Homo sapiens: one gene and its partners. The protein of the gene in region 1 purifies or fractionates together with the protein of each later gene. This does not show direct contact. Each region holds a gene or a part of one and is shown on either strand. Other genes may lie near its edges. The genes, in order: TMTC3, PPP2R2C and COTL1.

Region 1 (3,193 bases):
TTAAGAAAGATACATGGAGAGAGCCTAAGAATTTTAAGAATTCATTTTCAAGTCACAGTACATGAGGTATTCTCCATCTTTTATCTGGAGTCACAAGCCATAACCTAAGAACTGAAATTAGGCATTGTTTTTGGATGCTTAACAGAATCTCCTAGATCAAGACCAACTCCCACTGGTATCAGTGCTTGCTTTAAACTACCTAAAAAAAAAAAAAAAAAAAAAAAAATCTATGGCAGATCCTTAGGGAACCTAGTAAGAGTGGGTCTTCTAATGCAGACCTTGTATCTTATGACCTATTTATAAAACAATTCTTAAAAAAAATACAGGATATGGTTTTTGAAACATATATAATTAGAAATTAGTTATCTCAAAGGAACTAAAAAATATATAGTTTTGAAATACTATATAATTAGAAATTACTATCCCAGGATGATAGCCAGAGCTTTCATATTTTAAATTAGAACCAACTTTTTAAGGTATTATAAAGCTCATTTAAAATGTACTTTAATTCAAGAAAAAAAATCAGGTATAAATTAGTAAGTTTAATTTGTAACTACTTTTTAACCTATTTTTCAGGTTTAAATTTGCCCAAACCAACTGAAAAATTTATTAATACTATAGTAGGCTAATTATCTTTTATATCCAGACATTAGGCCAAAAATGATACAATTCTGGTTAATCCATAATATATGCATATATAGGAAAATGCAATAGTAATTTGTTTTCCATACTTGATGATTAAAATAGCTTCAAATATTTTATGAAAGCTTAGTCAAAATAAATATTTAATAAAAAGATATACCATAACAAAATATCAAGAAGTTAGTGTTTGAAAATAAACTGTCACGTTGTTTTGCTTTCAGTCAAACAGAACTGAATTCAGTGGCTTAAGGTATCTAAGAATAATTCAATTGTGACTTTGGAAACAAAAAAATTAAAATCCAGGTTAAGACTACAGAGCTAACACAAAGATGAAAGAGAAGTTTACTACGTTATAACTCAAAAGTTTAGAGTTATTGGGACTTCTCAATGACTACGATCTAAGAAACATGAATAATTTGGGGAGTAAAAGTAAAAAAAAAAAATCATGATTATGTGATTCATGTTGTGACACTCTCAATAAGTAAAACTAAACAACAAAAAATACAGTATATATGAGCACCATTAAAAATGTGTGTATGTAGCTATACATGTGTCAAACTTTACCTGATTAAAAATTACATTTAAAGTTAAAAACAAGTATACAATTATGAAAATACATTCTCAAGCTAACATGTCATGACTTATTTTAAAATGTTTCATCAAGCATTCCTTCTAAAACTCAACTAAGGAATACAACATAAAAAAAGCCAGCATTCTTTTGTAGTGTAAATCCCTTGATTAAACAGAATTACTTAAGTGTTTTCAATTCATAGTTAGATTCTAAGAGGTGCAAGAAAAATGAAGTAGGCAAATAAATGGGAATTAACAGAATAAACCAGCACATGTTGGATTTGTCCTCAAGGGATTATCATTCAGGCCTCAAAATTATTTTTAATTGAGAGCAGTAAAGATTACATTGCCAGAAACACCTTCTTTCTATAATAAAAGTTGTAAATTTGTCACTTCCGCTGTAATATTTCTGCTATATTCACCCACACTCTGAAAACAGCGATACATAATATACATCCTGGGATAATACAGGTCTTTAATGAAAATCTTATTTTGATCCTACTTCAAGGCAGCTCATGATTGACCATTAGGAACCCTTGAACTTTTTTTCAAAGCTCCCAGTAAAAGCAATCACATGATACGGATTGATGTTCTTTGATACCATTGTCACGATAAATATTAATGTTATTCACCATTTAAAATACGTTCAATCTCTTCTAGTCTTTTTAAAGCAGCAACTCTTTTCTTCTCAATTTCTTTGATGTCTTTTGTTGTTTTGTGGGGTGTCTCTTCGTCTCCATTTTTTCCTAATTGTTTGTTGGATTTAGACTGACTTTTATTATCACTTGTTTTTACTATTTGTGTTTGTCTGGATTCACCTCTAATTTCTTTTACACTTTCAGTTGGAATTTTCTTTCCTTCCACACTTGAAATCTTACTGGTTGGGAATATTGGCTCTATAAAACTAGATGAGGAAATCTTATCCCTGACTATATTCAAATGGCGCTGAATATATTCTTCATGTGGTGCTAATGCCAGTGTTTCAAGAAGGCATCTTTCAGCTTTTAATAAGTCTTTTTCTTCAAAATAAACAACACAAAGATTGTGTTTTCCTTGCACATTGCTTGGATCCATCTCCAAAATCCTTTCAAAACATTTTTTTGCTCCTAGTATATCTTTCTTTTGATTCATCAGAATGTCTCCTTTTAAAATGAGGCCCTTGATATGATCAGGGTAGTATCTGAGTAACTCCTCCAAAATTGGCAAAGCCTTTAATTCCTTTGCAGTCTGGGAATACAGGAGAGCCAGATTAAACAAAGCACTTCGGAAGTCGGCTTGTAACTTTATGGCTTTCTTCATCCAAATCTCTGCTTCATTGTCCTTTTTGTCATCCATGGCAAGCATTCCCAAATTGAAATACCCATTAGCATCTAGTGGCTCTTCATTTATATAACTTAGAAGTCGTTTTCTAGCTTCAGGTCTGAGTTTAACCTCACCTAGAAAGTTTTTTTAAAGAAAAAATATATTGTTAATAAAATAATTAAATGTGAGGAACAAAGCCATTTTCAAATACTTAGATTACAAAAAGACAGCTTCAAAACAACTAATTTCCATAGTTAAAAAAAGTAGAAAGCAAAAATCTCGAAGTCTTCATAGGAAAAGCAAAATATTTGAAACAGTAAAAAGATAGCTTATTTCTTTTCCTTTAAAGCAGTAACAGTGCTTCAGAAACCAAAAGGAGAGAAATGTCTCTTATAATTTAGAATTCAATTGGAAATAGAAGGAAAATAGAGAATTCAGAAAAAGAAGCATGGGATTTGCCAACAAAGACATGTATTCAATCTTGATTCTGATAACATTATGACTTTATACACTGAACATGTTACTTAACTTCTCTGGGTTAACTGAGTTTTCTAATAATTGTATGTTGTATATCGAAAAAATGTTCAGCAAATAGTAACTATTACTGGGTAGAAAAAAGCTTCAGAATGACTGTATCACATTTTAAAAAATGTTACTTCAAAGTTTTAGGAATGTTTCG
Region 2 (3,653 bases), on another chromosome or scaffold:
GCTCCGGGAAGGTGCCCAGTGAATGCTGAAGGGTGAGGCGGCAGGGAGGGCTGCAGAGGGTAAGTCAACTGCCTCTAGGGCTGAGCACCACGCCTGGTACACAGCAGAGGCTCAGCAAATGGCAGGTGAATCAGATGAGGACACAGGCACACAGAAGACAAACCCCACTCCGCTCCTCTCGGGAAACCGCACCAGACCTGGGACCTGGGATGTTTCAAGACATTCAGAAGACCTAGGAGAGGAGCTTGCATCTGCAAATTCTCAGCATGAATTCACCATCCAAAAAACAACGGTGAGGTCATCAGCTCTGAGACAGGGCGAATTGCCCCATTTATAACCAAAAGAACCCCTGGCTGGCTCGTTTGAGACTCATCATCTGTCCCTGGAGCCCTGATCTGGGACCAGTGAGGCATGGGGGAGAAGCAGCTCCCATCAGCTCCGGTCCCTGCAACAGGACGCACTGGAGTGAAAAATTAACCCGGACGCATAAAAAGTCCTATTGATGTGGTAAAGACCGCAGACCGAGACAGGAAGGGACGTGAATGAAAGAACCCTGAACTGTAAGACTCCACAGTCATGTCCATTTTATGATTTGTGGCGGTGAACGCTTCCTTTCCTTTTTATTTTTTTAAACAGACAATTACTGCCAAACACAATTCTGGCCTAGGAAAGCTGGGGCAGGGAGGGGGCCCAAACTTCCTGTGTCCACACACTGCCACCTCTGCAGCTGTCCTCATCAGTGCTGTGACTTTCTTCCCCTCCTTGCATTGCGGTCGTGAAGGTCATGTCGGGGATGACTTGCATGAGGCTGGGTGGCAGGGGCCGGGAACTGCACATACCTAGTGCATGTCAGAGTTTACCTTGTCCTGGAAGATGTACAGGTTGTTGGTGGCGGCGATGGCAATGATGTTCTCAGCCGGGTGCCAGGCCGTGTGCAGGATCTTCTTGGTGAAGTCCAAGCTGTCCACACTGATGTCATCACGCCGGCGCTTGCCCCCCACGCACACGCGCCGTGGCTTGAGCACAGCCCGGGGCTTGCTGCTTTCCCTCGAGGCCTCCAGGGTCACGTCCCGCTTGGTGTTCCGATCGAACATGCGGAAGAAGTTGTTGTAGGCCCCGGTCATGATGACGCTGGTGGGAGAAGGAGAGGCATCAGGTGAGGAGGAGCACAAGCCCCTTCTCGAGAAATAAGCCCAGGTGTGGGGGCTCACGCCCATAATCCCAGGACTTTGGGAGGCCCCGGTGGGAGGATTGCTTCAGCCTAGGAGTTCAAGACCAGCCTGGACAACATAGCGAGACTCCACCTCTACAAAAAAAAATTAAAAATGACCGTAGTCCCAGCTATTCAGGAGGTTGAGGCAGGAGGATCACCTGAGCCTGGGGAGGCAGGAGGATCACCTGAGCCTGGGGAGGCAGAGACTGCAGTGAGCTGTGATTTACCACTGCAGTCTAGCCTGGGTGACAGAGTAAAACTCTGTCCCAAAACAACAAACAAATGAAAAAGCAATCCCAGAGCCTACAGAGCCATCACTCCCTGGAAAGGGAAACCACACCTGCCTCTATTCCCCTGTATCTTGGGGTCTCTTATACCCCCTCACATGTCAGCTGCCACCAACATGCAGACTTTGGGGCCAGGAGCTAAGATCCTTTTTATCCTCTGCCCCAATCATCATGAAAATACCCTCCTGGCCAGGCGTGGTGGCTCACACCTGTAATCCCAGCACTTTGGGAAGCCAAGGCGGGCAGATCACCTGAGGTTAGGAGTTTGAGACCAGCCTGGCCAACATGATGAAACCCTGTCTCTACTAAAAATACAAAAATTAGCTGGACATGGTGGTGGGCACCTGTAATCCCAGCTACTCAGGAGGCTGAGGCAGGAGAGTTGCTTGAATCCAGGAGGCAAGGTTGTAGTGAGCCAAGATCGCGCCACTGCACTCCAGCCTGGGCAATAAGAGCAAAACTCCGTCTCGAAAAAAGAAAAGAAAAGAAAAGAAAAGACCCTCCTGTAATTTCTGTTAGTCCAGGAGAGAAAGCTCTGGCCTTCCAAACAGACTGTGCAACCACAGCAGGAGGTAGACATGGAAGCAGCTGGGACAGAAAACCACCAGGCCCTGCTTCCCTCCAGGGGCCCGCCTGTCCCGAGGACTCGGGCGAATAAACAAACATGCATCGCCATGAGGGTCGGGGCGAGCAGTGCTGACGTGCAGGGGCTCGCTGCCCTCACCGTCCCGCTAAAGAGAATTCCACACCATTTCTCTGCTCTCCCTGCTCCTAAGGAGAAGGGGTTCCTGCCGGTGGGAGGAAGGGTAAGTTCATCCACATAGTAAGAGGCAGGAGAGAAAGCACAGTTCTGTGGGCCTGCGCCCAGAGGGAGGGTTTTGGGGTTTGGCCTCTGCAGGGCCCTGGAGCAGCTGTGAGGTGCAAGGTAACTGGGGAGGAAGAGGATGTTACGAAAAGCGACCATAAAGAAGTTGTCCTGCTGAAGGCTCTTCAGGGAGGAAATCCTGTTTCCTTTTGGAAGCTGAGCTGGGCTTCCTGAGGGTGACACTGCTCTGTGACAGAACCAGGTGGATCCCTGGGTCTCCAGGGGTTATGCACAGAGGACAAAAGCTCACACGTGAGCTCCGGCACTGCAGTCAGGGGCTTGGGCTCTGGCCAGTCCGCCTGGGTCCGGATCCCAGCTCTGCCCTACCCTGACATGCGCACTCTCTTAGTTTTCTATAAGAACTGGGATCAACAAGGGAACGCAGCCCCTGGTGAGCGTGAATCAGGGGACATAGGCTGAACACCCCGCACAGTGCTGGGCTTGAGGCACTTTGCTTCTTGTTATTTACCAGGTACTCCTCGATCCTAATCGTCCATGTGACCAAAGCCGCACCCGCTTTATATGTGACTCAGAGCCTGGGACAAGGGAAGCAGCATGCGAGGGGGGCCGGGTGAACGAGTCCCACAGAAGGGCCCTGCCCAGGCGCCACAGGCTGACTGGGGGAGGCCACACCCTCCCCGCGCCAGCACAGTGGGGAGGCAGCCCCCTTTGTTCTTCAGGGAACAGTTCACAGAATGAACCTGGGTGATTTCACACAATGCTGGTTCTTCTGATCCATTTAGTGGAAGGAGAGCGACATAATTAAAGTCATTTGCAACCCACACAGTTCCTGATCCTCCCCCTGTTCGGGTGTGGAATTCAGCTGACACGTGCTCTGGGGGAGAGGGAGGGGCCCCTCTCATCCTAGAGCACCAGGCCGCACCACCATGAGAGCCATTCCTCACATTCAGGCAGGTTTCTTAAATTCCAGAAGGTTCCCTTAACAGGGAAAAGGGCAGGGGAGCTGCTTCACCTCTCCTAGCCTCATCTGCATGTGGGACCACAACGCCGGCTGCTTTCAGCCCCAGTGCTCCGCTCCTCTTTCCTTTGGGGAAAGAAAGGCTCCTGCCCTCGCCACCCGTGGCGCCTGTAATCCCAGCTACTTGGGAGGCTGCGGCAGGAGAAGTGTTTGACTCCAGGAGGCGGAGGTTGCAGCGAGCCGAGATGGCGCCACTGCACTCCCTATCCCTGTGAGCGGTCAATCACAGTGCTCTCCTCGCCCCTTGGCCTGGCCAACTTGGGCATGTGATATCCCTGTCCATGCTGATTGGTGCAAAAAGTGGGCAAG
Region 3 (3,653 bases), on another chromosome or scaffold:
TGGCTGGATAGCAGTCACCACGCTCGACGTGCCTTATCTTGGTCATACCTCAGAACAGCCTGGTGTGGCAGGTACTAAGGTTACTCCTATTCTACAGATGAGGAAACGGAGGCCCAGAGAGGTTAATAGGCTTCCTGCATTCACCCAGCTAGAAAGTGGCAGAGTTGGGACTTGAACCCAGGCAGGCTGGCTCGGGGCAGGTGCTCTTGGCTTCTGAGGAGGTTGTTTAGATTCTCACCTCTCGTGGGATTGCTTGCAGGTTGCAAATGACATGGTTGCCCACTTGTGACTCAGAGAGGGCTCTTTTGTGGCCCCAGTTCCCTGCCAGGTATCCTGACAGGCCTGAGAAGAAAGGTTCCACTCTGGTTCGGGCTTCCTGCTTCCAAACATCTCACAAGGTGGCCAGCAGACTTGGAAGGCCAGAAACAGCACCCAGTTTCTTCCTTATAACCTCAGGGTGTGGGCCTTCCTGGGGTCCTGCTCTTCTCCCAACCCTCCCCACTCTGGCACTCAGGCATTCTCTCTGAAACACCCCCTTCCCTGGCCCTCCCACCTCAGGCTACTGTCCCTTCTCCCCTTCCTCCCCCACGGCTTTCCAGAATGGGATCTCTCCACCCAGCCTCCCCTCCTCATTTCTTCCCAGCCTCCTGGCCTGGCCTTTCCTCCCTCAGAGCTGTTTTCCAGAGGGCCACGGGGTGTCTGTGCTGCCAGGCCAGTTCCCTCCCACCCCCGCACTCATCCTCCCAATCTTTCTGCCTGCTCTGGGTCTGCGCTGCTTCTTCCCGAGCTTGCCTGGCTCCCGGCCTTCCTCGCTGCCTGCCCCTCCGCTACCTCCGCTCTTGCTTCTTGCTCCATAGCTCAGTTCGCCTGGGATGGTCAGAGACCTTGCGAGGGCGGTGAGAAATGCCCAGTGCAGATTAATGTAAGCAGAAAATCCACTGTGGCCTCTAGCCTGGAAACTCCAGGGGAAGTCCTAGCAGCAGCAAAGACTGCCCGAACTCCAAACAGCCTCTCCTCCTCCTCCTAGCTCTGTCTTCATCCTTCACCTCCATTCTTGCGGGGAGGGGGGAGGTTTAGCCCCTGGGCAGAGCCATCTTGGTGGAAAGACGGAGCAAGCCTCTTTGCCAGTGATTTTGGGGGTCCCTGGACTGTCTTTGGCCCTGAGGTCATGTGCCCATCCCTAGACCAATCATGGAGACTCTGCGTGGCCAGGCCTGGATCACATGCCCACCTCTGGAGTGGGTGGGGGGCGGGGCAGCCCCACTCAAACCAGGAGACTGACTTGAGGAGGTGGCTTCCTAGGGAAGAATGGCATGCCACTTTCACAAAAGTGTCCATTTGCCCCTTAACATCTCTGCTTTCCTCTTCATAGCAACAGTCTATTTGCCCTTAATCTTCCTTGTCTGGTATCCACTCTGTCCTCCCTTGCTGGGGTAATTCTTTCTACAGTACATTTCTAATCAAGTCACTCCTCTGCTCATTAACCTTCTATGGCTCCCTTCTGCCCCATTGGATTACACTCATGCTGTCTGCTTGGCTTTCTAGTCGGTTTGTCCCCACCCATATCTCCTCTCTAGTAGCTCCACACACCCTCCCTCACACATCTGCAGCCCAACACTGTAACATTTCCCGTCTTGGTGCTTTTGATTTTGGAGGTTTCTACCATGCGGTATTCCTCTTCCCCATCTCAACTCATTTAGGACTCAGCCACCCACCTAGCTTAGTGTGATTCCTTCTTCATTTCAACTCTGAGTACACTTTGGAATCAGAAACACTCTAGTCCGGGCGCCGTGGCTCATGCCTGTAATCCCGGCACTTTGGGAGGCCAAGGCAGGTGGATCACTTGAGGTCAGGAGTTCGAGACCAGCCTGGCCAACACAGTGAAACCCTGTCTCTACTAAAAATACAAAAATTAGCCAGGCATGGTGGCCGGCGCCTATAATCCCAGCTACTCGGAGACTGAGGCGGGAGAATCACTTGAACCCAGGAGGCAGAGGTTGCAGTGAGCCGAGATCGCGCTGTTGTACTCTAGCCTGGGCAGCAGAGTGAGACTCTATCTCAAAAAAAAAAAAGAAAGAAAGAAAGAAAGAAAGAGTCATTCTAGATTGACATCTCCGCTCTGCTTCTCACTCATTGTGTGTGTGGCCTTGGGCAAGTGCCTCCCTCCCTCTGTGCCTCAGTTTTTAGGTCTGTAAAATGGGAATCCTGACATGCCTACCTCTGAGGGTGACTGGGAGGGTTCACTGAAGTAATGCACCTAAAATGAGAGCACAGGCCACGGTGTGTGTTGGCTACCCCTACCACTGCTTTTCTTTTTTTTGAGACAAAGTTTTTCTCTGTCGCCCAGGCTGGAGTGCAGCCTCTGCCTCCCGGGGTCAAGAGATTCTCCTGCCTCAGCCTCCCAAGTAGCTGGGACTACAGGCATGTGCCACCACACACGGCAAGTTTTTGTATTTTTAGTAGAGACGGGGTTTCACCATGTTGGCCAGGCTGGTCTCAAACTCCTGACCTCAGGTGATCCACCTGCCTCAGCCTCCCAAAATGCTGGGATTACAGGCGTGAGCCACCGCGCCCGGCCTCAAATAATTATTTTTACTCTGATAGCACTCGTAGAGGCATTATGCTTTCCACTCGGAAGCTTTCAGTACACGTCCCCACTCAGCACAAAGTAGGCACCTGGCCCAGGCTGGTATGCAATAGGCATTTGGCCCCATGTGGACACGCATTAGACCCTTGGCCCGGGTCTGCATGAAGGAGCATGATGAGAGGTGCTTAGCTCAGTAGTTCAAGGTTTGGGTTTTGTCCGATTGCCTGGGTTCAAATACCTGCCATTCATGTGCTCTGGAGCAGGTGAGTTACCCATCTGGTAACCTGCTACAGTGTGGTCATTAGGAGGATTAAGGAAGCAAGTCCTTATGCTGCTTGGGACATAGTGAGCACTCCATAAATGTCAATTACTGCGATTGCCATTTTTGTTTTTGGAATTCAAGTGATGTGGAAGTAGCGTTCAAGAGCACCAAGAAGATGGAAGGGGGAGAGATGATGGGAAGGAAATGGGTGCTGAGCTGGGCTGGAGGGTCACAGGTTCACCTGACAGAGCCACTGGGAGCCTGGAGCAATCAGGGCTCAGCTGGCAGAGGTGGAGGGAAAGGGGCCATTTGCCAGACCGGTTGTATGATCTACCTGGCCACAGCAGAAAGGGCTTACAGATCACGTATGTGTGGCGAGGCAGTGGCTGGGGCTGTCTGTGAAATCACATTTTGTTTCTGCACCATTCAGATAATACATATTCTCTGTGGCATACTCATAAAGCAAGACTAAACCAAAAGAAGAGAATACCAAGTAGATATAGTTCAGATATAGTTTTGCAAACACTCAGGAACTTGTTCCTTCCTGTGTTTATTCCTTCATTCTCCTGTTTATTCATTTAATTCATTCGACATATGGGACTGCTACTCTGTGGGGCACGACTGTAGGCACTGAGGATAAATACAGAAGCAGAAAAGGCGCCTGTCCTCGTGGAGCTGACATTTTATTGTCATCTCCCAGGACAGACCGCTGGTCTCATTTTTATCTATATTCTTGAAATAGTTTTCTGTATGTAATTCTACTACAAAAGGGGATCATAGATATTTTAGAGCCACCTCCCACAA

What was found.
Region 2: the proteins of TMTC3 (region 1) and PPP2R2C purify together in Homo sapiens (co-immunoprecipitation; one large-scale study listed by IntAct). This does not show direct contact.
Region 3: the proteins of TMTC3 (region 1) and COTL1 fractionate together in Homo sapiens (co-fractionation; one large-scale study listed by BioGRID). This does not show direct contact.

What each region holds. Positions count from the first base shown.
Region 1 is NC_000012.12:88,194,293-88,197,485, reverse strand, and holds part of TMTC3 (protein O-mannosyl-transferase TMTC3), read right to left. Parts: intron 2,649-3,193; coding exon 1,837-2,648; 3' UTR 1-1,836. UniProt on the Homo sapiens protein: Transfers mannosyl residues to the hydroxyl group of serine or threonine residues.
Region 2 is NC_000004.12:6,322,463-6,326,115, forward strand, and holds part of PPP2R2C (protein phosphatase 2, regulatory subunit B, gamma), read right to left. Parts: intron 1,132-3,653; coding exon 840-1,131; 3' UTR 1-839. UniProt on the Homo sapiens protein: The B regulatory subunit might modulate substrate selectivity and catalytic activity, and might also direct the localization of the catalytic enzyme to a particular subcellular compartment.
Region 3 is NC_000016.10:84,611,426-84,615,078, reverse strand, and holds part of COTL1 (coactosin-like protein), read left to right. Parts: intron 1-3,653. UniProt on the Homo sapiens protein: Binds to F-actin in a calcium-independent manner. Has no direct effect on actin depolymerization. Acts as a chaperone for ALOX5 (5LO), influencing both its stability and activity in leukotrienes synthesis.